Linked DNA regions of Homo sapiens. The protein of the gene in region 1 interacts with the protein of each later gene in a pairwise test. Each region holds a gene or a part of one and is shown in the gene's direction. Other genes may lie near its edges.

The links.
Region 2: the proteins of UBXN2B (region 1) and VCF1 interact in binary tests that used the Homo sapiens proteins (3 or more experiments, as listed by UniProt).
Region 3: the proteins of UBXN2B (region 1) and PAX5 interact in binary tests that used the Homo sapiens proteins (3 or more experiments, as listed by UniProt).
Region 4: the proteins of UBXN2B (region 1) and XAF1 interact in binary tests that used the Homo sapiens proteins (3 or more experiments, as listed by UniProt).

Annotation. Positions count from the first base shown.
Region 1 is NC_000008.11:58,414,335-58,421,361, forward strand, and holds part of UBXN2B (UBX domain-containing protein 2B), read left to right. Parts: intron 1-2,515; coding exon 2,516-2,619; intron 2,620-7,027. UniProt on the Homo sapiens protein: Adapter protein required for Golgi and endoplasmic reticulum biogenesis. Involved in Golgi and endoplasmic reticulum maintenance during interphase and in their reassembly at the end of mitosis.
Region 2 is NC_000017.11:73,229,377-73,236,443, reverse strand, and holds the start of VCF1 (protein VCF1), read left to right. Parts: upstream 1-4,049; 5' UTR 4,050-4,137; coding exon 4,138-4,358; intron 4,359-6,826; exon of another isoform or gene 6,827-7,067. Other genes in the region: MTNAP1 (mitochondrial nucleoid-associated protein 1), read right to left, coding at 1-961.
Region 3 is NC_000009.12:36,961,263-36,968,289, reverse strand, and holds part of PAX5 (paired box protein Pax-5), read left to right. Parts: intron 1-1,565; coding exon 1,566-1,741; intron 1,742-7,027. UniProt on the Homo sapiens protein: Transcription factor that plays an essential role in commitment of lymphoid progenitors to the B-lymphocyte lineage. Fulfills a dual role by repressing B-lineage inappropriate genes and simultaneously activating B-lineage-specific genes.
Region 4 is NC_000017.11:6,759,031-6,766,057, forward strand, and holds part of XAF1 (XIAP-associated factor 1), read left to right. Parts: intron 1-225; coding exon of another isoform or gene 226-444; exon of another isoform or gene 445-631; coding exon 632-688; intron 689-1,375; coding exon 1,376-1,571; intron 1,572-2,855; exon of another isoform or gene 2,856-2,877; coding exon of another isoform or gene 2,878-3,011; intron 3,012-3,124; coding exon 3,125-3,210; intron 3,211-7,027. UniProt on the Homo sapiens protein: Seems to function as a negative regulator of members of the IAP (inhibitor of apoptosis protein) family. Inhibits anti-caspase activity of BIRC4. Induces cleavage and inactivation of BIRC4 independent of caspase activation.

The DNA of each region.
Region 1 (7,027 bases):
AATAATCATTTATTACAGCGTCTAGAATTGGTTACTCTAAGGCTGAGAATTCCAATACTTTTAATATTTTGCTATATACTTTATTTTCTCACCCGATTCCTTTGCTTTCAGGTTTCAAGTTCTTCACATTTCAAATTCTAGAGGAAAGATTATCAATACTTTACTTACATACTTTATCCTCTGCATATTATTGAAACATTTTCTTAATTACGTTTTGAGATTTTTTTGTTGTGTTAGTTTTGACCAGTACTTCAATTAATATTTATCAATTTAAATTATCATTTCCTCTTTTGATGTAATGTCATCTATGTTAAATAATATAAATTAAATTTCTTTGTAGTATTTACTAATGAACTCATGCCATATGATGCCATATGGCATCAACTCCCTCTAAATATTACTCATTTTCTTCTAAGTTTTTAATGATGTACCGTTAATAACTAGGATCTTTCAGCCAGGTAGACTCTTTAATATCATTTTCCTCATATTCCTCTTTTCTTAATGTATGTTCCACATTCCATGGGGCTAGTGGCATTTTTGCTTTTTTAATTTATGTCACCAAAGAAAATTGTTATTTGATTGGAAGCATTTATTCAAATCTTGTTAAAGCAAAAAGTGTTTAACAAATATAACCCCAATTTAAAATACATCTATCTATATCTATTTCTGATTCATTTTCTATTATGTTCTTTATATAATTCAACGTCAATTTGTTGCCTTTTAGGTACAATATTAGAAACAATTTGAGAAACTTAAAATCTAGTTGGGGAAATAAAACAGCAAAAGTACACAAGTAATGACAACATAATGCTTAATATGAATGTCATTGGGGGTATTACGTGCTATGAGTATTTAGAAAAAAAGATATTAAGAAGATTAGAAAAGGTTTTGTGAAGGAGAGCTGAAATGGGCCTTTGAAATACAGATGACATTTTCATTGATGAGAATAGGAATATCATAAAAGTAATTCATAAAGCTGACATAATGAGCTTAGAAGGAAATCCATAAAATAATACTACTTTAAAGAAATTTCAGGGAGGTAAAATTTCTGAAAACTTTAGACCCTAGTCATCAGACTGTGTATGTGCATGTCTGTCTCTCTCTCCTCTATCATTTGTTTGTTTTTTGTTTTGTGTTTTTGGAGGGGATGGAGTAGTAAAGGACCATAAGGAGATATAACACTGTAGGAAGAAAAAAAAATCTTGGGGAAAATGAAACACTGATACAATCATTACTAAACATTTAAGAATAATATCTTCTAGTGATGGAACACATGCTTTGTGCTTTCCATACATTATTTAATCCTTCAAATGACTACGGTGATTTTTTATAGGCATTTGAAGATGTGGTAACTAAGGCTCAGAGAAATTAAATAATTTGCCCAAGATCACACAGGAAGTGCCTAAGTTACGATTTGAATTCAGTCCTTTTAGATTACCAAACACTTTTATAATTCAGATTTCTAGCAAAGTTGCCATTGTACAAATATGAATGTTACTGAATGTGGGAGGGTAGGGGTAAAAAAATTAGAAGTCTTTCATTTTGTTTTATTTGTGTATATTTTAAAAGTTGACTAATAGAATTTTCAAAGAATTAACATTGCCCCAATGCCCTGTTCTTCTTGGAGGTAGTTTTCATATCATTTGTGTGTCTAAAAGGAGCATTTTAATCTGTTTTGTTATGATTTTGGGTTTTTTTGTTTGTTTGTTTTTTGGGTTTTTTTTGAAAAAAACAAAAAAAAAAACCGGAGATTATGGTCATGCCAATTATAATTGAATAGCCACAGGAGCATTAAAGAAAGTTGTTGAGTTGTTGTCCAAAGATGTCAAAAGTCAGAAAAAATTCTATACAATACTGAAATATTGGATTACTTTTTAAAATTCCATTTTAAGAACAAATATAATTTTATTTCATTTTGAAATAAACTATCCAGCCAATATCTAGAATGTATAATTTGGTAATATTACTTTCTAAATGGTATATAAACCATATATAATTTATGGTCTTGTTTGTTCAGAAACTCATTTTCCTAAACACGATGAAATTTATAAGTTTGGTAGACTTTTAAATAGAATACTTCTGAAATTGTTTTATATGCTTGGAGTTTGAAAACTTGAATAGCTGAATGAAACTATTTTATGAGATCTGATGGAAGAAGCTGACGTTAGTGTGAACATCTTCAGGAATTCTTAAAAGAATTGCACAAGAATTTTAGGTTTAAATTTGAAAATGGTTTGTTACCTAAAACAGATTTTGACACTGTTCAGTAGTTAATTGAAAATAATCAAGTAATTATTATAACTTAAAGTTATTCTAATAGATGTGGCATTTTGGTTAGTTCTATATAATGAGATGCAGTAAGTTTATTTCAGAAAGGAATCATCTGAAGCAGCAGCTTTTTTCATGAAAAGTCTTTACCACTCAATTTTAAGTTAGTGTTCTATACATAACTTCTAGTTGTATGGAAGAGGTTATTCCTAGTGTTATACTTTGTAACAAGCCTGTTATTATGTAGTTGGCCTTGGCAGAATTGTATGAAGATGAAGTGAAGTGCAAATCTTCCAAGTCTAATAGACCTAAAGCCACAGTCTTCAAGAGCCCACGGACACCACCTCAACGGTAAGTTTTATTTTGTTTTGTTGTAAAAAGAAATTATAATCCTTTCTAAAAATTTACTAACTTCAAATTATTTTAAATGGCCTTCTTCAAGGTTTCTTCAATAATTTTTAAAAATTATTATTCCAAGATCGAGGCAGATTTGGATAAAAAATAGAAATGATTAATATCATTTAGGTACTATTAAAACTTTTACAATCAGAAAGCCAAAAGAAACTTACGGAAAAATTACCTTAAAATACCTAATATTTTGGTAGATATCATATGAAATTATATCCTGAATACTATTTTTCTTGGGCACAATGGTTCTTTAATATTTTTTGAGTCATAGGACTCATTAAGGGTCTGATGAAAGCTATAGAATTCTCCTCTCAAAACAACTTTCATGTGCAAGTTTGTCATTCGTTTTTAAGGATATGTGTGTTTCTTGAAGCCACTCCATGGAGCCTCTGCAGGTCTTTTGTCCTCCATTTAAGAATCTATGATTTTTGAAGTCTGTCTCTTCTTCCTTTGGGTGATGATTCCTCTAATGTGTGACCTCCTAAATAGTATTTGTTGTTATTAAAATCCCTGAAGTATAAAAACAACCAACTGTGAAGACTTAAGAGATGAGAACCAGGTGTCTTTTATTGCTGTGAGTTTTCTTGTTGCCAGGAATATTTTCATTAACATCTTTTTAGTACTGTAAATACCATCCCTGGGGAAGAAACGTCAGTTTTCCCATTATATCTTATTCTCAGAAAGTCTATTTTATAAGTTTTCAGTTCATCAAAAAGCAAGACTAGTAGAGTAAATACTGTGTTTACTTCACCTATATTCACCAAGTTGGTACAATGTTACATTGAACTTGTGCACGCATGTATTCTCTCTCTCTTTTTTACTCAACTATTTGAAAGGAAATTGTAGCCATCATGACACTTCACCTCTAGATACTTCAGCATGAGTCTCCCGAGAAGAAGCACACACTTGCAAAATTGATAACACCTTACAAAATTAATAGTAATTCAGGCGGGGAGTGGTGGCTTATGCCTGTAATCCCAGCACTTTAGGTGGGCCAAGGTGGGCAGATCACTTGAGGTCAGGAGTTCAAGACCAGCCTGGCCAACATGGCAAAACCCCATCTCTCCTAAAAATACAGAAATTAGCTGGGCATGGTGGCACGAGCCTATAATTCCAGCTACTTGGGAGGCTGAGGCACAAGAATCGCCTGATCTTGGGAGGCAGAAGTTGCAGAGAGCCGAGATGGCGCGACTGCACTCCAGCCTGAATGATGGAGAAGGACTCTGTCTCCAAAAAAAAAAAAAAAAAAAAAAAAATTAATAGTAATTCTGTGATGCCATTTAATATATAGTTAGTAGTCACATATCTCTTATAGCTTTTTCTTTGGATTTAGGATTCAACTGAGGACATTGCATTGCATTTAATTATTCCTGTTTTGAATTTCTGAATACACAGAACTCTTCCCACCTTTTTATTGTTGTTTTTAGCTCAGCTACATAATCTAAAATTTATTATGTTGACTTTTTTAGAGAGTCTAGGCCAGATGTCTTATAAAATGTCTAACATTGTAGATCACTGTTTCCTCATGATTAGATTTTTATTAGAATTTTTGTCGGGTATGCTAGATAAGTGATATTGTCTGCTATTTATTACATGACAACAGGAGTCATAATTTCAGGATTTTCCACCATTAGTGATATGTTCATTTGGTTAAGGTGCTGACCACCACAGCACTCCATTGTAAGATACTGTGTGTCCTTTGTAATCAGCAGTTTGGTATCTTGACACTAGTTGAACATCCTATTCTTTCATTTAATTCTTACCTTTATACATATAAAATACTGTATTTTTAGCTGCTTCTTTAATTTGTATATTCTCCCAAGTCTTGAAAGTACTTAATATGTATCTCTGTACTTGCATTTTACTCACTATTTGGCCACTGTTTCCCCAGTTTGAACATAAGTTGAATGACTTAATATTTGAGTTCTTATCATAAGATTACTGTATTAATATTTTCCTTGCTATTCAAATATAATCATTAAGATATTTCAGTGAAGGGTTTTCTTTTATGCTGTCTGAAACAATGCTGTGATTAATAGGTATAATTCAGTAATCCAGTTTGTAAGGATTTTGTGCCTCACATTTGATTTCTAGAATAATTTATCTATCAAAAGAACTGAGTTTCCTTAAAATATATAGGTTGAGACGTAAACTGTGTTTAATCTGTTTATAATACAATGTATAGCAGATTGTTCGCAATCTTTTTTTCTACGTATGATATCTTCTAATGCTAAGTGTATACTTCCTTTGATTTCATATTCAATATCGAAATTTTCCCAGTTTCGTTGTATTTCTACAGGTCTGTTTGGTACAGAAAACAGTGCTTATTTTCATGGTCCACCTCCTTGGGCGGTATTTGAAATCAAAACAGTTATTGTCTCATTGTCATTTTAAGCCAAGACAGTTTCATTATCTGAAACTCTGGACATAAGATGGTCTGTGTTTTTAATTTACAAGAGGAGTTACGTAATCTACAGAAAGACCCTCAGGATATAGTCTGATGCCTGTTTTGACATATTCATCCATGAAAAGTTAAATATCACAATCAGAACTTGGATATGTCCTCCACAAGTCATTGTATAGTAGTATTGCTTTGAGAATTAAATGAGATAAAGTGAATAAGATGCCTAGCACAGAGTTGGTACTTAGCTGGGCCTTAAAAGGATTTAAGATATTAGGAGTTAGATAAGCACAGAAGACAAGGGACAAAATTCCAGGAACAGAGAGTCACATAATCAAAATGACCAGAGGAACCAGAAAAAGAACCAGCAGAACTTTAGTAGCTTAGTAGCAAATAAGGTTGGATAGATGGGGGTGCAGCCAGGAAGGCTTTCATAGGCATGTGACCTGTGCTATTGCACAAGGCCCCATGCTTAGAAGGGCCCTGTGCTTGGAGTAATGCTTTGCTGTTACTGTTTTGAAATTCTTAATTGGTTTTGAACAAGGGGACTCGATTTTCACTTTGCACTGGGTCTCACAAATTATGTAGCCAGTTGCGGATACAGCCTTGAAGACCAAGAAGATAAGTTGCCCCTGTGTAGAAGGCAGTGGAAAGTCAATTTGTCTTTTAATAAAAATTTAGTGACAAAACTATAATACAATGTTAAAAGCTTTGACTCAAGATGGATACATCTCAGTTGTAATTTTTTTGTTTTCATATAAGAAAATGGTTTTATTCCTAATTTTTAGTTCCCATACAGTTTACAAATACACTTTTACTCTGATAATACAGCTTTGCAACTAGCAAAGCAGTTGCGCTAACACCCATAAATATAGGTGGGGAGACAATTAACATCCACTAATGTTTCTCTACATAAAGTATTCTTTTAATGTCATTTTTTTAAAAAACAGTTGCAAATAGACTACATAATGTAAGTGGGCAAAAAGGCAATTAAGTGAATCTCTTGAAACACTAAATGTATAATAAACAGCATATTATCAACATTTACATGATTCACATCAAAATGATGACATCCTAAAACATATTCCCTTTAAAAGATTTATCAATAAAATATTAAATATCTTTTAATACTCTGGTACTTCATATACTGCAGGAAAATTAATTGTAGGTCTAGTCATCAGCTTAATCAGGGATCCTTTTCCCATTAGCTTTTATTAATAAAAGAATTACAATTAGGTCACAAATAAACAGACAAATTATTAATTACATGATTTGAGGCTTAGGATGAAAACTTGTCAAAATTAGTTTGATATACAGCAAAGTTATATGACCCACTAAAACCAACTGTTCAATAGTTTTTGCCTTGTGTGAACTGCCTGTAGTGAAAAAAGAACAAATTTTTAATGATGAAAGATACAATAAACTATATTTTGGAACTTTTCAAGAGGAAGAAGGAAAAGCTATTTCAATAAAATTAAGGGCAAATACAGATCCTGACAAAGGCATCCTGACATCAGGGAGGCCATGTGCTTGCTATATGTAAAACTTGATTCCCCCAACAACATACAGAAAATAAAAACTGCACTGGCTTTGTAGTTATGTCTACAGTCTAAGTTTCCCTTATGGATACTAAGCTAAAATAAAACACTTCACAATTGCAAACCTTTCCACATCCCCCTGAACTAAAAATAACTCAAGATATTATTAGTTTTAAAATCCCCAATAAAATTACCTCTAAAAACAATCTTGACCATTTTCTTGACTGTTTCCCCGAAGCAACTGGGCTCTTTAAAGAATGCACACACACCAAGAAAGTCCTACACATGTTTTCTCATCCCCATTTAGCCACATTTCAAAAGACCTTGATTTCAGTGGGAGAGATGACCATAAGTTTCAGGAAGGCCACACACTAGACATGAAGCACCTTTTAGTTTTTTTTTTTTTTAAAGC
Region 2 (7,067 bases), on another chromosome or scaffold:
CTGTTGCAGACATACTTTTCTCTGCATTTCCTTTGCTCCCACACGTCTCTACTCCCAGGGTAAGTCCTTTCTCTTGTTTCTCCATGACTTGGATTTTACCTAATGAGCTCATTTTAAGGCTTAAAATGAGGGATTCTGTGTTCTTTTCTGGAGTCTCAGTAACTGTAACATCAGTAGGGACTCCTGAGAGGTGATCCCTGCCTTTGGAATCTCTCTCATTGCTTAATAATGTTCTTACCCTTTTAACCCCATCACTGACATTCTTTGGAGAAATATGACAATCACCAGTAGGCACATCTAGTAATTTTACTAGAAGTTCCTGTCTTTGGGGATCAATTTTGTCCAATTTGAGATCACCAGAGGTAGTTTGTACATCATTAGGTAGAGTTGAGGAATATTTTCTATCTTGATTTGACAAAGAAGGTTCTATTGAGCCAACCAGTAAAGACGCTCCAGCTTCTGAAGGATTACATCGACTTTCTCCTGATTTAGGCAAATCTTTGGCAAGTTCTCTTTTAGGAGAGGTTTTCTCTGATGCGTAAAACTGAGCCTTGGTTTCTTCTTGGAAAGTAGTCATTGGTTTAGTATTTTTTAACATTTTGAAGGATGGTTGGATTGGATTCTTGATGTCTTTATCTGCCTTTGTAGTAGCTGCTCTTTCCAAACCAACAGCTGGCAGTGGAAAGGTCTTCACTGTCTGTTCTGGTTTGTCCACCACCAACTTAGAATTTCTTTCTTCATTCTCTGTCTCTAACTCTTTCCCTTTAGCTTTAATTAAATCTTTGATTGGTCCTTTCATCTTTTTAGCACGTGGGAGTGTAGCTGGCTTGGACTGATAAACTTTTTGATCAGTAGGTATGGTTGGTCCTATCATCTTACAGTATGGCAAGTGGGATTTTAATCGTTTAAATGGCTTCTTACAGTAAGGACACACTTCCATTCTGGGTGGATTATCACTCATCCTATTCCTGAAAAAGGTAAATGTGAGATTATGAGAAGCACATAGTTTGTACATACCAATATTTTACTTATGTGTTGTATCTTTTAAATTCATTTGGAACAAGCTAGATGTTTGCTACTTACGGTTACAGCAAGTCAACTAGTCATTATATGAGTATAAAAAATTGTTTAAAAACCCTTAAACACGTTATTCAAGGACAGAATGGTAAAGAATAAAAAACTTAGGCCAGGAACCAAAGGTTATTTATTTATTTATTTATTTTGGAAACAGAGTCTCACTCTGTCACCCAGGCTGGAGTGCAGTGGCACAATATCTGCTCACTGCAAACTCCGCCTCCCAGGTTCAAGCAATTCTCGTCTCAGCCTCCCAAGTAGTTGGGACTACAGGGGCATGCCACCACGCCTGACTAATTTTTTGTATTTTAGTAAAGACGGGGTTTCACCGTGTCCGTGTTACCCAGACTGGTCTCGAACTCCTGAGCTCTGGCAATCCACCCACCTCAGCCCCCTAAAGTGCTGAGATTACAGGCGCGAGCTACCACGCCCACGCCCAGCCAAAGGTTACTGATTACAGCAGAGGTTTCCAAAGTGATAAATAGAATATGCACTAGGGTGTAAGAAGAAAATATTAGAATTACCACAATCAAAGAATGAGAAATGAAGCTCTACTAACATTTAGTAATATGCATATACACACACACACACACACAGATATACATAAAATGTATGCATAATGCACAAATATATACATGGCCAAGGACACAGTCCTGTTTTTCACTTATACTTTTTTTTTTTTTTTTTTGAGACAGAGTCTCACTCTGTCACCAGGCCGGAGTGCAGTGTCGGCTCACTGAAACCTCCATTTCCCAGGTTCAAGCTATTGTCCTGCCTCAGCATCCCGAGGAGCTGGGACTACAGGCATGCGCCACCACGCCAGGCTAATTTTTGTATTTTTAGTAGAGACGGGGTTTCACCATGTTGGCCAGGATGGTCTCAATCTCCTGACTTCGTGATCTGCCCGCCTTCGGCCTTCCAGTGTGCTGGGATTACAGGCGTGAGACACCACGCCTGGCCTACTTATAGTTTCTAGTACAACAGATTACTGGCAAATTAGTTTGACATCTTTGTTAAACATATACGATGTAAAAAATTAAAAAAAAAACATTTATACCATGTATATTTGTACCTGTTATTCTTTAGAGTCCAGAAAAGAAAATGTTTAATTCCAATGTTTAGTTGAAAGTTATTTCCTTTCTACATCTCTTATTCTTTCTATAAAGTTCCAGAGGGCAGGAAACATATCTATCCTGCACACAGCTGTATGTAAAAACCTAGCACTGAGCCTGGCATACAATATTTGTTCACTTAATTCTTTAGATATAAACGTTTAAATATTATTCAGTACTACAACTGATAATATCTTCTGACTACCAAAGAGATTAAAAAGGGTGACTGAAACCACTTACAAAATAGACACAATCTTCACCAATCCATTCAATAAAGCAACCAACCCACCTTATCCTGTACGAAGTCCTTCAAAACAAAACTGTTTTCTGCCAACAGATTACAGTAATCATTTTTACTTTGTTGTTGTTTGGTCTTTTTTTTTTTGAGATGGAGTCTTGCTCTATCACTCAGGCTGGAGTGCAGTGGCGCGATCTCGGCTCACAGCAACCTCAGCCTCCCAGGTTCAAACGGTTCTCCTGCCTCAGCCTCCCGCGTGGCTGGGATTACTGGGATTAAGGGCGTGCGCCACCACGCCCAGCTAATTTTAGTATTTTTAGTAGAGACGGGGTTTCACCATGTTGGCCAGGCTGGTCTTGAACTCCTGACCTCAGGTGATCCACCCGCCTCGGCCTCCCAAAGTGCTGGGACTACAGGCGTGAGCCACCGCGCCCAGCCTGCTGGGATTACAGGCGTGAGCCATCATTCTTTCTTTCTTTGGAGGTACACACTAACAGGATGAAAGCCACAGACTGTTTGTTTACAATAATACACACAAATGAAGCCAGTCCATGGACCTTCGGCTAACAACGTTAGGAAGGGCTTGACACCTGCTAGACGTTTCTGCCTCCACTCCACCTCACACTCAACCCTACTTGAAAGATCCCGGTACATTCCCACGATAACGTCTATACGTGGGTGTCTGTTTTCTTACCCGAGCTCCTCCAGGAGGATGCTAGTTTTGTGGGTGCTTCTCCCGGATCCCCATGCTTCCCCGATCACCGTTCCCGAGTGTGGCAGAATGAAACGTGAATGTCAGCCTGTGTAGGACACGATCAGACAGGTGACTTGGCAGCATGCACAGTGAGTAAACGCGGCACGATACTGAACCAAATAGAAACACAGGTTCCGGAAAGCAGAGAGTTAAGACCTCCCCAGCCTCCGGGCTCAAGGAGGACCTCAATAGTTCCACTAATCCTCACCCTCACCTCCGGCGCTCTCCAGCCGCCTTTCCCTCCTCCCGCTGCGTTACCAGCCTGCCCACCTCCCCGCACCCTTCCTTTCCCTGAAAGCTGTTCTGATTCTGCCAGCTGTTCTGATTCTGCGGAGTGGATGGGGTCGGCCCGGCAGCTCCTGGGTCAGGGACAGCCGTTCCCGCAGCCCCACCGAGGATTTCCTCCTGCGGTTCCAGGAAGACCCTCCGCCGGCCCCGGCACCCGATTCCCTACCCTCTCCGCTCAGGAGAGTCTCCCCCAGACTTAGAACGTGGGCCGCGGAAAACAAACCCGCCCTTGCAAGCTCCCCACAGAGCACCGTCCTCACCTCGGAAGACCTGAAAGCCCAGGCGGCCCCGGCGACAAGCCCCCCAGGGAAGCCCCCCAGGCCCCTGCCCAACCCCCGGCCAAGGAACCTCGTCAGGCCGTCTGCACCACTGCCGGATAGGTCCGCCTGTTTTAAAATATGTTACACGGATTCAACTCAAATACTTGTATGATATTATTATGACATAATTGAATTTATTTGAAACCTGGCTTGACTTTTATACCGTACCCTCCGTTGGCTGTGAACAGGCGAGCGCTTCTGCCACCCCAGGGGAGGTCCTTTCTCCCAGAAGCTCCTAGTCGCTCCTCCCGCTCCGAGCCCGCCTCTTCCCGTGGGCGGGGTTACCAGTCGGTGCGGTTGGGATGGTGCCACTGCGCAGCCGCGAGAGGGCGGTACCACGGCGGCAGCGACATGGGGGGGCGCGGAGCAGACGCCGGAAGTAGTGGTGGTACGGGTCCGACTGAGGGGTACTCGCCACCGGCTGCGTCCACCCGAGCGGCTGCGAGAGCCAAGGCCCGAGGGGGTGGGCGTGGCGGCCGCCGAAACACAACCCCCTCTGTTCCCTCTCTTCGCGGAGCGGCGCCGCGTAGCTTCCATCCGCCAGCTGCCATGAGCGAGCGCCTCCGTCCCAGGTGAGAGGGAAGGGACCCCCTTTCCATTCGTCGCCTGAGGATCTGGGAGATAGAGCCGAGGGGGCGCGCGAAATGGGGGTCGGAGCAAGAGTGGACCCGGCGGGGCTCCCTGTGGGGTGCACTGCGGGCCGGGGGAGGAGGGGAGAGGGATGCGCGAGTGATCGGATGCTTGGTTCCTGTGGGTAGCTGGAAGGTGACTCTCCGGGGTCCAGGTCTCCCGCCCCTCCATCTTTTTTCCCCCCTGTCTTTTCCTATTTGGAACGAAGTGTGATCGGTCCCGGAAGAGAGACGGTGGCCCTAAAGCTTTCCTGTCCTAAATTTAGGAGGGTGGGGGGATGGGATAAACGTCTCATCTTGGAGAGGGAGCCCCCAAAGGCTTTTGTGAGGGCACCGGGCGGGGAGCTGCCGGCTCCCCAAGGTCAGAAAGAAAGGTTGGGCTTAACCCCGCAGCAGGGAAAGATTCGGTTAGACCGAAGAACTTGTGCCCTGAACGGTTGTGAACACAGAAGGGCAGATGACCAAGGCGGGTTATGGATCTTCTCTTGACTGTGGCATTAAGAACAAGCTGGATTCTAAACTGTTTGGATTGCGGGGCCGTTTGACTCCGAAGGCGGGAGGAAAGATTTTATCGCGATGCACTCGCTACCTTCCCGAGGGAGCCTGGCCTCGGGACGCGGGTCTTAAATTAGGGGTTCTGTGCTTGACATGTACTACTAGAGTCCGGACTAAGTTGGGATTTCTTAATTTTTTTCTCTCTCTTAATTTCCTCTGCAAGAATGTGTGGAGGAGAAAGTTGGGAAAGGTTACCTCAGAATGCTCTTCCTGTTACGGTCTTTCCACAAGGATCCTTCTCTGAAATAATTATTTCATGTGATTGAAGTTCTCAAAAGTATTCTGAGTTTATTTGGTCCCATAGTGAAAACCTAGGGTTCCCCAAGCTGCTGCATTGGATTATTGATTTGGGTCATGTAGCAGGTGGAGCATAAAGCCTCTCCTTGTATAGAAAAGAAGAGTGGACTAAATTTGAAATTGGGGGCCCAATTACAGACATGCCATCGGAATTAGGAGCAAGATCTTTAGATACAGTGAATCTGACCCGACTGCCATATTATTCTTTCCCAAACCCAGTTTATACTTACGATATTCTCTTGGGGTGTCTCACATATCTGAAAAAAAATCTAAATATTTCCTACAAATAAAAATTCTACTGTACATAACTAATCTGAATGCATTTATACTGGCAGTAGATTCCTTTTATCTTGTACACAAATAATCTCAACATGTTTTAAAGAAGTTATTTGATTTGGACAGGCTTTTCCTGCCAGTGTTTAATGGAGTATGATGGGCCAGCTCTGCCAGCTCTAGGATGGTCTAAGACGGTGGTTTTTCGGCTGGGTGCGGTGGCTCACGCCTGTAATCCCAGCACTTTGGGAAGTCAAGGCGGGCGGATCACCTGAGGTCAGGAGTTGGAGATCACTCTGGCCAACATGGTGAAACTCTGTCTCTACTAAAAATACAAAAAAATTAGTTGGGCCTGGTGGTGGGCACCTTCATCCCAGCTACTTGGGAGGCTAAGGCAGGAGAATCGCTTGAACCTGGAAGGCGGAGGTTGCAGTGAGCGGAGATCACTGCACTCAAGCCTGAGCAACAAGAGCGAAACTTCCATCTAAAAAAAAAAAAGGGTTTTCAGGCTCTCCCACAGTAGATTGGATAGCCGCAGAGAGGTGAGTGTGTAGTGAGGGAGTCCCTGCTTATTGATTGATTGATTGGTTGATTGATTGACTGATTGATTGACAGAGTCTCACTCTGTCGACCAGGCTGGAGTGCAGTGGCCCCATCATGCCTCACTGCAGCCTCAACCTCCCAGGCTCAGGTGATCCTCCCACGTCAGCCTCCTGAGTAGCTGGAGCACAGGTGTGAGCTACCACACCCAGCTAATCTGTGTATTTTTGGTAGAGGTGGGGTTTCACTATATTGCCCAGGCTGGTCTTGAACTCCTGGGCTCAAGGGATCCACCCGCCTCGGCATCCCAAAGTGCTGGGATTACAGATGTGAGCCACCTCACCAGACTGGGAGTCCCTACTTTAACAGATCCTTTATCTCTTATATAGAGAGAATTTTTTTACAGTAAGAAAGAAAGAGTTCTGTTACTTTTTAAAATAAAGTTTGAAAACCACTAGTTTCCATACTCTTTTTTTTTTTTTTTTTTTTTTTTTTTGAGATGGAGTCTCACTGTGTCGGCCAGGCTGGAGTGCAGTGGTGCGATCTCGGCACACTGCAACCTCTACCTCCTGGGTTCAAGCAGTTCCCCTGCCTCAGCCTCCCAAGTAGCTGGGATTACAGGCACACGCCACCACGCCCTGCTAACTCTTTTGTATTTTTAGTAGAGACAGGGTTTCACCATGTGGGCCAGGCTGGTTTCGAACTCCTGACCTCAAGTGATCTGCCTGCCTCAGCCTCCCAAAGTGCTGGGATTACAGGTGTGAGTCACCGTGCCCAGCCCATACTCTTAAGATTATTTCTATGCCGAGTCTCTAGGAGATGACAGGAAGGTTGGAGAGAAATGAAATAATGCAACGTGATGGAATCAACCATCTGTAGAAGTAACAGATGCTAACTGGTAATCTGCACCTAGATGGTTAGGGAAGAATATAATCAGTTATAGGGGTGCCTGCTAAAATCATAACCTGGTCTGTGGCATTAATGCCA
Region 3 (7,027 bases), on another chromosome or scaffold:
TGGGTGGGAGCTTGACGTGACGGATGAAGTCTAGTCTAGGGCAGCAGTGCACTGGTGGGGGCAGGGGTCAGACAAGGCCTTGAGTAAGGGCACCTTTCAGCATGAGAGCAGACCCACGCTGGTTTTCCCCAGGGCTTCCTGACTGCAAAGGCAGATGCCTCACCTCTGGGCCTGGGTTTCAAGAAGCCTCTGGTCAGCCTTGCGTGAGCAATATGGTCCCAGAGAGCCCCGGGGAATGATGTACCCCCGAGGCCATTTCCTCACGGGAAACATTTGCCCTCTGTGCTTGATTTTATTTTGAACAGTTCAAGCTTGAGACTCAACAGAAGATATTTCATCCCATTTGTTTCTTTATTGATAATTCGTAATATTTCTTTTGACATGTAAGCATCATCACCAGAGACTGTTACAGTGTGAATAGCTAACAATACAGAACACAGAGGGAATTTAATCTTATACTTAGTTAATTTACATTTTGTAATAAGCAGTACATTCAAACTTCTGAAACCAAACCAAACCAAAGAAAAACATGCCATGAAAAGTCTCTCCCCCTCACCTCCACTCACTCACTTCCTACCTCCCTGAATGAGCAACCACTGTAAATGTTTCTCATATATCCTTTGGAGAGATTTATATTGCACATCGTCTTATTTTCTTCCTTTTTTACACAAAAGGTTGTACATTATACATGCTGTGCTGTACCTTGTTTTTTATTTTTTAACATAACAATGTATCTTGAAGATCTTTTCATATCAATTCACAGAAGGAAGCCTCATTCCTTTTCAGCTGCTGCACAGTTTTCCATTATGCAAGTATGCCTGGCTGAGTTAACCAACCCCCCACAAATAAACTCTTGGGTTGTTTCCAGTCTTTTGCTACAAGAACCTTGTACATACATCACTTCTCACATGTGTAAGTTGAGCTGTAAAATAAATTCCCAGAAGTGCAATCGCTATATCAAAGGGAATGTGCATTTGTGGCTTTGATAGATTTGTCGACTTGTCTAGCACAGGTGTTGTTACCACTTCCACCAGAATTGTATGAGAGTCCCGTTTTCCTACAGTCTTCCTAGCACAGTGTTTCACTGACCGGTCACATGATGTGGTAGCAAATGTCCAGGGTAAGGACCTCAACTCTGGGAAAAACTGTACCTCCCGGGAAGGTCTTTAGGACAGGAGGGGCAGGAGCACCGGATGACTAAGCCTGTGGGTCAGCCCAAGCTCGAATCCTCAGGCAAACCAATAAATCTCTCTAGGTCTCAGTCTTCTCATCTGCAAAGTGGGGAAAATAACCTACCTTGAGGGTCATCATGAGGATTAGATGACATGATGCCTGTCAAAAGGGCTTTGCACAGTCCCTGGCACATGGCTGCGGGAGGCTGACTCTGAACTTACCAGCAGGTGACCTTGGGAAAGGCAGTGCCTTACCTGAGCCCCTGCTGGTGTATTCTCTGGTCAGGGAGGGAGTTGGGGTCAGGTCCTCTTCATAGTCTCAGGGTCTGACCTGTCTTTCTTTAGCAACGTGTATAACCTCCACTCACCCTTCCTCTCTCCTGCTCATCAAAGGTATTCAGGAGTCTCCGGTGCCGAACGGCCACTCGCTTCCGGGCAGAGACTTCCTCCGGAAGCAGATGCGGGGAGACTTGTTCACACAGCAGCAGCTGGAGGTGCTGGACCGCGTGTTTGAGAGGCAGCACTACTCAGACATCTTCACCACCACAGAGCCCATCAAGCCCGAGCAGGTACGCCTCGTGATGCACGCCCACCACACCTGCCACCGCCACACCGGCCCAGCCAGGTTCCTGAAGGCAGAGGCATCTGGCGGGGTGTGGGTGAGGGCACACCAGGTTCTGCTCAGAGAGGTCTCTTCAGTGTTCTTGGCCAAACTTGGGCAGTCGCTACATCCTATAAGGTCGGGAGGGCTTGTCTGGGCCTCCAGTGGCTTCTTGCCCTGGTGCCTCTGTCGCTGGCCAGCCAGGGGGTGGGTGACTTCTCTGGCTGCTCTGGTGTCCTTTCCAAGGGCTCTTTGGACAGAAGGGTGTAATGATCTTTCGGGCCACGTAAGGTGGTCTTGGGTCAGTATCTTGTCAGTCAGGGTGATGGTGGAAATATGTAACCAGCACGCGGCCTGGGGGCTCACCGGCCGTGAACAATGGAATGACGGAGCGGGTGGGTATCCCACTGTCTGCCCTCTCACCAGGTCGCCTTGTCATTCTCTTAGTGACTGAATCCAAAATTCTGGAGATAAAGAAATGTCTCATTGCACAAACTCCCACCTGGGTTATTTGCAAGAGAGGGAGAAAGCAGGAGGACCAGCCCTGGCTGACCGGCTGTCTGCTATACCCTGGGCAGAGTAGTCACTACCTGTGGCTATAGAGATGAGATCACGAGGCTCGGCCCAGTGAGAGGCTCTTGAGGCCTGACTAAGATCTCTGGACTATCAGATTCAGTTCATAAGACTATTTCCTGACACCCAGTGTGTGCCAGGGCCTTGACAGGTAACCTTGCAGGCTAGACATGGCTCTGGACTGCCAAGAGCTCCCACCTGGTGGGCCAACCAGAGAGACCCTACAGACAACAACTTTCCTCGGCACTTTCCTCGCTGGTACTAGTGGTGAGAACTGGCTGCGCTGAGTTTCCTCTAAATGCTAATTAGAGGATGCTTCTGAATCTTCTCCAAAAAGTCAGTCCAAGCAGTGTAGCCTCCCTGCACAGCTCCCATGGAGAGGCGAGGTGCTGGAGAGAACCGTGTGGTGAGGGAAGAGCAGGGCCTCTGGGGCCACCCATCTATGACAGTCTGTCTGTGTCTGAGCAGTTTCTATGAGAGCTCTTACAGACCTTCTAGCCACTTTGTTTTCAGATGGTAAAACCAAGGTCCAGAGAGGCAGAGCAACTTGCCTAAGGCCACGCTGCAAGACGCATTCACATAACAAATATGATGAGTGTTTACTTTGTGCAAGGCCTGGAGCCATGCACTGGGTCACATCAGTGAACAAGATGGTCTTGGACCTCCCCTCAGGGAGCCTACAGACTTGTGGAAGAATCCCAATAGAAGAATTACCTAAAGGGTCATGGGTTACAGGTGCGCTTGGTGCTAAGGAGGAGGTGTCTGAGGTTCTCTGAGAGCCTAAAGGAAAGGCTGAGCCAGCCTGGAGGCCTCAGTGGCCTCCTGGGGGAAAGGTATTTATGCTGAGCCTGAAGGGGTTGAGTGGAGCAAGGAGAAGGGGTGTGGGGGTGGAGGGAAAGTGCCTGGCAGAGGGGACAGCAAGTGCAAAGGCCCTGAGTTGAGAGGAAGGCGGCAGGAACGAGGAATGGAGAGAGCCGGTGTGGTTGTGGCTCAGGGATGGGCGGGCGATGATGCTGGGGAGGTGGGCCTGGTCTTGTAGACTGGGTTGAGGATTTTAGTCTTTCTCTTACAAGTCGAGTGACACCTCTGTTGGGTAGGACATGGTTATGGTGCTGGGCATAGCCGCCCCCACACACTCTAGATCTTGGACTTCAGGGAGGAGAGTCTGTTTCTATCACAAGCACCCTCTCTGCTCTGCTCAGAGCCCTTCTGAGAGACGGCAGAAGGCACATTTTCTCTGACACGGGAGGAGAGTGAGAGGGGCCTCGATCAGGAAACCTTCCTGGATGAGGCCTGTCCTTCCCTCCAGAATGTGGAAGAAAGTTTATCTTCTTTTTTTTTTTTTTTTTGTGAGCTGGAGTTTTGCTCTTGTTGCCCAGGTTGGAGTGCAGTAGTGTGATCCTAGCTCACTGCAACCTCCACCTCCTAGGTTCAAGTGATTCTCCTGCCTCAGCCTCCTGAGTAGCTGGGATTACAGGTGCCTGCCACCACGCCCGGCTAATTTTTTTGTATTTTTAGTAGAGATGGGGTTTCACCATGTTGGCCAGGCTTAGTCTTGGACTCCGGACCTCAGGTGATCCACCCTCCTTGGCCTCCCAAAGTGCTGGGATTATAGGTGTGAGCCACTGCGCCCAGCCAGAAGGTTTATCTTTTTTCTTTTTTTGAGACAGAATCTTGTTGTGTCGCCCAGGCTGGAGTGCAGTGGCGCGATCTCGGCTCACTGCAAGCTCCACCTCCCGGGTTCGCGCCTTTCTCCTGCCTCAGCCTCCCGAGTAGGACGGACTACAGGCACCCGCCACCATGCCCGGCTAATTTTTTCTATTTTTTAGTAGGGGCAGGGTTTCGCCGTGTTAGCCGGGATGGTCTTGATCTCCTGACCTCATGATCCGCCTGCCTCGGCCTCCCAAAGTGCTGGGATTACAGGCATGAGCCACTGCACCCGGCCAGAAAGTTTATCTTCTAATGGCTGACAAGATCATGTAATTTTAGGGGTAACAGGAGCCACAGAGGCAAGATTTCAACCTGTTGTTTTTTTAGAGGCCCAGAGAGAGGACAGGGCATGTCTGAGGTCACCCAGCAAGTGAACAGGGAAGAGCGGGGATCCAGGCCTCTGCACTCCACCTGGCCTCTGCAGCACAAGTGTTTCTGTGAACCCCTTATTCACACAGACACTCCGTGTGAGACTCCCTCTGTGTTTCACATGACCGTCATGGAGACTCAGAATCTGCACCATAACTCCTTTAGCTCAGAGTGCCCAGGAAGACCACGCAGCCTGCAAGACCTCATCCCTGAGTGGTCTGGAAGCCGCCCATGGATTCACTCACTCACCTGCTCACATGCCACTCCTCTAACTTCTTCCCTGAACGTGGGCTGGGAGCCAGGCACAGTGCCAAGTGCTCATCAGCTCTGTCCAGTCTCGCAGGGGCAGCGTGCTGTGGACTCAGAGCCCGCAGGACAAGAGAGACTGTTCAGAGGGTCCTGATGAGGTGTCAGCCAGAGAGGGGGATGTTACCTGGGTTGGGAGCATCAAGGACAATGGCACTGAGGGGGCAGTGTTGGATGGGGGGCTTGAAGGACAGGTCCCATGGGCTCATGGAGAGATGGGGTCTGATGGGGAGGAGACCTGATTACAAACTCTGTGAGGACTCAGCATCTCCAGTGTCCTTCAGAATGAGCAGGCACGTCTGCAGGCCTGTCTCTGACTGTGCGCTCTGAGACGGCGACTGCAGGCGAACTGTGTGGCAGGATAATGACTGACCCAGTGTTTTCTGGTTAATCTGCTTCACCTCCCTGTAATGTGTTTTAATGAGGAGAGATGGAAGGTGAGGAGACGGGGCTGCCCTGCACCCACACACAGGCACTGGACTATGAATGACATACCCTCGTGCCCGATTCCCAATCACTTTGGACAAATGATGCCTGAGCAAGGGGCCGCAGGCTGGGAAGGGATGTCAGTCAAGGGTACAGGTTCCTTGAGCCCCTCATGCTAGCTCTCCAAGAGGTGAATGTTCCACAGGCCTCGCCTGTGAGCCCCAGCGTGGCATGGCGGTGGTGACAGGAAGGGGGCCTGAGGTGCTGGCCGCGGAGGCTGGCTGCCTCTTCCATTTTCGAGCAGATTGAGCTGTCTCAGTGTGTGTCTCTGTGGCCTAGTGCCCTGGATGGGGGCCTTGCTGTCACTTTCGCTGAGCAGCTTGGTGGGGAACAAAGAGCACTTACTGGCCTTGGGGTCGGGAAGCTTGATTTGAGTCCTAGCTCTGCCCTGCCGAGCAAGTCACTATTTTTCTGGGCCTCAGTTTCCATATCTGTGGTAGAAGTGATCATGATTTTGATGACGACAACAACAAGAACAGCTGCAGCAGCCGAAACCGAACGTGACGACAGCGATCCTCCTCACCTACACACCACAGCGTTCAGTTCACAAAGACCGTTCACATCCATCCTCTCATTGGACCCCCGAGGCAAATGCCTGCCAAACAGGCTGGGCATGATTCGGGAGCCCCATTGTATAGACTAGAACATTTTTTTTCACAGATTGTTTATTCAAGGAGTTTCCAAGATTGTTGAACCGCAGAGCTGGAATCTCATCTCAGGGTCTTCTGTCTTCATCTCATGCAAGATGGTTCCATGGGCCTCCAGGTCCAGGACGATTCCAGGGGCCAGTTTTCTGGCTAGCTGGTTTCCAGACCTGGCCTATTTCAGTCAGAGTCTGCCTGTCATCCAGAACTCTCAGAACTTGCCATAGGTTTGGAGAGGCCACATCCTCCCGGATCCTCCCACCCTGTCTCCCATGGGAAGAACATTCCTCATTGGGGCCAGGCAGGGGTCCTGACAGTTACTGCTGTTAGCTCGGAGCCTGCCCCACTTGCAGCTTTTCCCGCCAAGATCTACCTGGGTGGGTGGGCCCAGGCTGCTGGCTTTTGTAGGGAAATGTAGTAAACGCTTTGCCCTGGGTGGAAGGCGTTAATGTTGACCACGCCTGGGCAATGAAACACTTCCTTTTCAAAACGGTTATTGAAAAAGCAATTCTGTTTTCCCTACATATGGAGTGAGTAAAAATCACGTTGGAGGAAGAAAAGAAAAGAAAGCTGCTGGTGGCGAGTGTGTGTGCGTGCACGTGTGTATGTGCGTGCGTGTGTGTGTGTATGTTTCCAACAGTGGTATCTGTTTCAGTAAAACTCCCGTTGACGTTGTCGTCGGCGCAGCGCTCCTGTTGGGAGCGGGTCCCTCCTCCGGCGGCCACAGGAAGGCTACGGAGCATAGCCTGCCGTATTTACTCTCGGCAGACTATTAACCAACACCAGGCTATTAATCTGGCTTTTGAGCCTTCACTAAAGCCCATAAAAGCTCACAGTTGTCAAATGGAGTTCATTTTAATTTCCTTTCAATCACAGTAAATTATTCAGGTGATAAATCAGCTGGAGCAGCCTCCTGGCTGTAATAGAAACCCTAATTCCTGGCTAATTATCCATCCCATTGCTGCCAATAGATCAATACGGGTGCAAAATGGAACGGGCCAGGGCCCTCCCTCCCATTGGGCCAGAGACAGAGAGACAGCTGGGGAAGGGGATGTGCTGCTGACCTCCCAGGGAGTTCAAAGGTCACAGGAGGTTAAACTGGGAGAAGATCTGCCCCTTGTCTAACAGAGAAAACCACTAGAAATGCCTCCTGCTCTCATCAGCTG
Region 4 (7,027 bases), on another chromosome or scaffold:
ATGGCTCCAGTCCTCCCTGCAGGAGAGATGGGGTCCGGGAGTTGGGGTGAGGGCTGGGGACTTAAGGCAAGGGTCCAGTCCCCCAGGCAGAGACTCACTTGAGGGCCATGGGAAGTCATTTAGCCCCTCCACACAAAGCCCATGGAAAGGAAATGTTAATCCTGCCTTTTTCATGCTAATCTGAGTCTACCTCCAGTTTTCCTATTTCCAATCCTTTCCCTACAGGCTTATGGATCTGGCATAGGCAAGAGGTTCTGGTTTCAGGAAAGACTGGCTGTTCTCTTGAGATCTGTAAAGAGAGGATGTGAAAAAGGAAGGTCCTGGAAGGCAGTCAGATGGAGCCCTGTTTCCCGCCTTTCCATGTCCATTCCTCCTGGGGCCCCTGATCTGTCTCTCTGGAGATACTCAAGCTCAGGCAGCCGTTGCCAACTCAGACTGGTCTGACAAACACTTCTTGAACACTGGGCGGGGTGCTAGAGAGACACTGAGGTAGCCACATCGGATCCCTGCCCTCTGGGAGTTCACAGACCCAAACCCGGAACACTGTGAGCCAAAGTGGATGTGGGGCAGGCCCTGGGTGCTGGGTGGACCCACATCTGGTGTGTGTGTGTGTGTGTGTGTGTGTGTTTAGGTTGGGTGTACGATGTGTCAGCAGAGCATGCAGAAGTCCTCGCTGGAGTTTCATAAGGTAAGAGCCCCATGTGATTTCTCCTTTACAGCCAAATAGACCAACCTGAGAAAAGGAGAGGAAGGGGAAACGGGAGGCCAGTAATAGAGATTTCCACCTGACCACTCTTTTCACCCCATTAGGCTTGGAGAGCAGTGGAGAACTAGCCCACCGCATAACACAGGTTCTCCTGTCCCCCAGATACTGATCAGAAGGGTTTTCCATGGTCCATGAGTCCATCAGAGCTCAGATCCCCCGAAGGCAGTCCCGCACTCTGGCCCTTCTCATCTGCTTTCTCGTATTGGCCCTAATTCCCTAGGGAGATGGGCACAAGTCCTTGATCTGCCTACAGTCAAAGAGGCCAGTGATCGGCCAGGCGCAGTGGCACACGCCTGTAATCCCAGCACTTTGGGAGGCCAAGGCGGGTGGATCACGAGGTCAGGAGTTCGAGACCAGCCTGACCAACATGGTGAAACCCCGTCTCTACTAAAAGTACAAAAATTAGCTGGGCGTGGTGGCACACGCCTGTGGTCCCAGCCACTTGGGAGGCTGAGGCAGGAGAATTGCTTGAACCCGGGAGGCGGAGGTTGCAGTGAGCCAAGATCAAGCCACTGCACTCCAGCCTGGGCAACACAATGAGACTCTGTCTCAAAAAAAAAAAAAAAAAAAAAGGGCCAGTGATCATGCCCTTCCTGCTGCCTCCCACAGGCCAATGAGTGCCAGGAGCGCCCTGTTGAGTGTAAGTTCTGCAAACTGGACATGCAGCTCAGCAAGCTGGAGCTCCACGAGTCCTACTGTGGCAGCCGGACAGAGCTCTGCCAAGGCTGTGGCCAGTTCATCATGCACCGCATGCTCGCCCAGCACAGAGATGTCTGTCGCAGTGAACAGGCCCAGCTCGGGAAAGGTAAGCACACAAACTGGGGTGGAAGAGAGACGTTCCAAGGGCCAGAGCCTTTCCTGGATGGGATGCAAGGAAGGGAAGCTCTCAACAGGACGGATGACAAGTGTATTTGCTGTATAGATCTCAATTCATCTGGCTATTCTAATTCTAAACCATGCCTCAGAGTGGCCTTCCTGTGTGTCTGCTGTGGCCTTCAAATGACTGGTCCAGGGAGACTAGGAGGCCGGGGCTAGAGCCTAGCTACCACAAAGTTGAGTAAAGAGGCCATGGAGAAGGCTGGGCGGGGTGGCTAATGCCTGTAATCCCAGCACTTTGGGAGGCTGAGGCGGGCAGATCACCTGAGGTTGGGAGTTCGAGACCACCTTGACCAACATGGAGAAACCCCGTCTCTACTAAAAATACAAAATTAGCCGGGCGTGGTGGCGGACGCCTGTAGTCCCAGCTACTTGGGAGACTGAGGCAGGAGAATCACTTGAACCCGGTAGGCGGAGGTTGCAGTGAGTCGAGATCGTGCCATTGCACTCCAGCCTGGGCAACAAGAGCAAAACTCTGTCTCAAAAAAAAAAGGGGGGGACCATGGGGAGTCCTAGGAAACAGGAGGCTTTCTTTGAGCACCTCTAGCACAGTCCTAGCCTGGCAGAGATCCATTGCATCCTTTTACAGATGAGAAACCTACACACAGAATAAAGCAGGGACTTGCTAGAGGCAAAAATAAGACTGGACTCCCGCACTTCCTGGCACTGAATCTAGGGCTTTTTCCATTATCAACAATGGCCAGAAGGGAGTTAGCAATGGCTCCTGGCCTGGGGGCCTATGTATTGGCTCCCTGGTACCATTTTATGTTCACTTGAATCACTCACCTCTTTATGAGGGTGTATTTACTGTCACACAACCATCAGTGTGACAGATCCTTTGGTGTCTTTGCTAGTTGTTTTGGTAACATGGTAACATGGGAGAGAGCCTAAAACTCCCCAGACAGTAACCTTCTCCTGATAAACAATCCACCCAAGGGCAAAACTGGCCAATGGAAACCTGGAAATTGTGAGAGTCATGTATATTTCCTTCATCCCAGCATGGCTGGACGTCAACAGAATCAAACACAGTCTTCAACACAACTTCAGTGCAACACAACACAACACAACACAACACAGCTTCAACACTGTCAACAAAAATGTGTTCAACCAACACCTGGTCTGATCACAGAGTCTGAAAACTGGTGCAATGAAAGAGCACAGTCAGAATGGAGGGGGTTGGCATCCGTGGCTACAGCTCCATTCATCTCCTTAGAAACCAGTCCTGATCCAGGAAAATGTCTCTCCATTACGGTTGCTGCTGCCCTGAGTGCACATCTGTGGCCATAAAGGAAATGATGTGGGTGATTCGGCCAAGAGTTGCCTGTGTGGTCAAGGATGCCGGCAGCGCAGGAAAGTCAAGACCAGGCAGGTCCGGGGGGCAGTTCGTGCTCATGAGCACAGGCCATGTATGCAGTTGTGGGAGAGCTGGGCTAGCCGTTGACAAGGACAATCATTTGTGGTGTTGTTTCTCTGCTTATTCAGGGGAAAGAATTTCAGCTCCTGAAAGGGAAATCTACTGTCATTATTGCAACCAAATGATTCCAGAAAATAAGTATTTCCACCATATGGTGAGTAGCACTTAGTAATTTTCTAATGGTGCCAATAGTTCATCCACATTCTGAAAAGTGTGATAGGAAAGGCAGATTCTGGGCCCAATTTTACATAGCATGGATATTAAAGGGTCCCATATTTATTTTTTGCTTTGTTCCAAAAGATAGTTTAGTGACTTGCTTAGGCTAATCAAGCACACAAAAATTGGTCTTCATTTGTGCCCAGCCCTTCAAAGGGGCTTCCCTTGCCACTCCCAACACCCCCGATCACCTCTGACCATCTCCAAACTTCATGGCCTGGACATTGCAATTTGGTCCTCAGTAGGGCCTGTCTTACTGTTTTCGGTCCCATGTGGGAGTCTTCTCTATTAGACTGTGAGCTTCCTGCAAAACTGCATGACTTTTTCCATTTTCCTGACATCAGAGCTTGGTGCAAAAAGAGGACTCTGTAGAGGCGCAGTTACGTGATTGACTGACTGACTGATTTTGCCTGGGAACACTCACAGGTTCTTCCCTCCATAGCCCCTAAGCGCCGTTTAGTGCATTGCTGTGCCAAGTTGCTCCCTTCTTTTGCACAGAATGGAGCATTTCCCCTTTGGGAAACTTACCAAGGCTTCTCTCCAAAGAACTCTTCTCCTTCTCCTTGGGCAGAAAGTTGTTTACCTTTCTTAACACTTCAGTGCTTAAAACTACAGAATATCAAAACTAAAGAAACCATAGAGACGATCCAGCTTTTCGCTCTTTTCTTTTTCTTTTTACTATTGTGGTAAACCACGTATAATGTAAAATTTGCCATCACTATAGAGACATTTGGTACATTCACAATGTTGTGCAATCTGGTTCTAGAATATTTTCATCATTCCAAAAAGAAATCCTATACCCATTAGCAGGTACTGTACATTCCCTCATCTTCCCAGTTCCTGGCAACCACTAATCTGCTTTCTATCTCTATGGATTTGTCTATTCTGGACACTTCACATCAGTAGACTCATATAATATGTGGTCTTATGTAACCATCTTCTTTCACTTACCGTAACATTTTCAAGGTTTGCCCGTGTTGTAGTTGTGGCATGTGTCAGCATTTCATTCCTTTTAATGGCCTTTTCTTTTCTTTTATTTTTTTGAGACAGGGTCTCACTCTGTTGCCCAGGCTGGAGTGCAGTGGCGTGATCTCGGCTCACTGCAACCTCTGCCTCCCGGGTTCAAGCGATTCTCCTGCCTCAGCCTCCGGAGTAGCTGGGGCTACAGGTGCCTGCCACCACGCCCGGCTAATTTTTGTATTTTTTTTTAGTAGAGACGGGGTTTTACCATGTTGGCCAGGCCAGTCTCAAACTCCTGACCGCAGGTTATCCGCCTTCCTCGGCCTCCCAAAGTTAATGGCCTTTTTACGGTCATCCCACATTTTGTTTCTCTACTTGTTGGTAAACATTCGGATTGTTTCCACCTTTCAGCTCTTTGCTTTTTGAAGTGCAGTCTGTGGACCAGCTGCATGAGCATCACCTGGAATCCTGTTAGAAATGCAGAATCTCAGGCCCTCCCCCTAGAAATGCTAAATCAGAATATGCAGGGTCACATGATTTCCCAGGCATTTCAAGTCTGAGATGCGCTGCCCCAGCCACGGGATTCTCAGCCTTGGCTGTACGTGGAAATCACCTACTGACTTGTTTTCCTTAGTACTGATGTTTATTCGATCCTATAAGTGGTCCATGTGTTCTGTTTGAATGAGAAAATACTTGGTGAGCACCAAAACAAGAGTAAAGCTGACTACTTCCCTTCAAATGTCCAGCCTGGCAACCAGGGCACCTACACACTTATTTGAAGGCTACAGGGAAGTGGGGAGCTCCAATACACATGGAACTGGATTTGTGCTCAGAAACTCTGAATTTTAGTTCTGCTGTGCCCCTTACTGGCTGTGTAACCTCTCTGAGCTTCTTTCTTCTTTTGAGGAAAATGGGGATAATGGTTTATCTCCTTGTTCAGGAAAAGAAGACATCCACAACCAGCCAACACCAGATCTATCTCCTTGGCAGCATCCACACTCACTTACTTTGCCTTCCCACCTCTTAACCATAGAGGAGCTTCCTATGTGCCTCTCTAAAGCCTATCCCCTCCTACTGGTATAATATACCCTCTCTTTTTGCCTACACAAGGTCACACAAGTTTTTTGCTACACTGCTCCAGCAATTCTCCCCTCTCTGTCCTGCAACAGAGAGAGGTTAAATGAGCTGTACACGCAGGTAACAACAAAGTCTCACATCTCTAGGTTGTCCTAACATTTCTTACAATAACTTTTTAAAGGGGTACCACTATTGAATATTTATATATCAATGGCCTTGCACGAAAAGAATTTTTTTTTAATTTTGAAAATTAAGGATTGAAATCATGTATACTAGGTGGTTTTGTGGTTTTCAGTCTTTAACTTTTTATTAATATGACCCAAAGCCAGAAAAACATGAAATACTTCTGATCCCATTTCCTATAAGCTACCATCTTGTTTCTTTGTTCCCCTCCGTAGAAAAACATTTGAGCTAGTTGTCTATAAGTAACTGCCTCCATCTTTTCTTCTCTCATTCTTATTCCCACTCCAGTCTGGCTCTCCATTTTAACCAAATCTGCTCTTGTCAAAATCAATGACCTCTGCATTGCTAAATCCAATGCTCAGTTCTCAGTTCTCAATTTATGGGAAGCATTTACTGCTCATCACTCCCTCTTCCTCAGTGGACTTTCTCGGCTTCCAGGGTACCACACTTTCCTGGTTTTCAAGGACATTGGTGGTCTCTCATTCTCTACCTCCCCAGCCTCTTAATTTTGGGGGGCCCCAGGGCTTAGTCTCTGGTCTCTTCTCTACCTATATTCACTGCCTTCATTATTTCATCCTACCTCCTGATTTTTAAAAATGCCATATGTAAGGCCGGGTATGGTGGCTCATGCCTGTAATCCCAGCACTTTGGGAGGCCGAGGTGGGAGGATCACAAGGTCAGGAGATCGAGACCAACCTGGCTAACACAGTGAACTCTCGTCTCTACTAAAAATACAAAAACTTAGCCGGGTGTGGTGGTGGGTGACTATAGTCCCAGCTACTCGGGAGGCTGAGGCAGGAGAATGGCGTGAACCCAGGAGGCGGAGCTTGCAGTGAGCCGAGATCACGCCACTACACTGCAGCCTGGGCGACAGAGCGAGACTCCATCTCAAAAAATAGATAAATAAATAAAAATTTAAAAATTTTTTAAAAAGCCATATGTAGTCAGACACTTCCAAATTTATATCTCAGTCTGGGTTTTTCTCCCCAAACTCTAGATTTGTATATTACTATTTACTGCATCTTCACTTGAATGCTTGATAGACATCTTAAATGTAACACATCTGAAATGGAATCCTCTCTGCCACAGCTTGGCCCATCTCAGTTGATGGCAACTCTATCTTTCCAGTTGTTCAGGCCAAAATCTCAGGTTCACTCTCGACTTCTCTTTCCCTCCGCATTGCTACCCTGGTATGAACCATCATCTTCTCTAGCCCAGATGCTGCAGCAGTCTCCTAAACGGTCTTCCTACTTCTCACCTTGCCCCCTACAGTCTATTCTCATCACAGAGGTCAACGTGATCCCTTAAAAATACAAGTCAGATTGTTTGGCTCCTCTGTTCAGATCTCTGTACTGATTCTTGCCCCATTTTATGCAAACTCAAAACTACAGTGGCTTTAGAGATCTATGTCATCTTTGCCTCCCTTCTTATCTCATCACCTCTTTGATCTCATGTACTACTCCTGTTCAGCTCACTGGCCTCCTGATTGTTTCTTGAGCATACCATGCCTTAGGGCCTTTTCACTGGCTACTGCC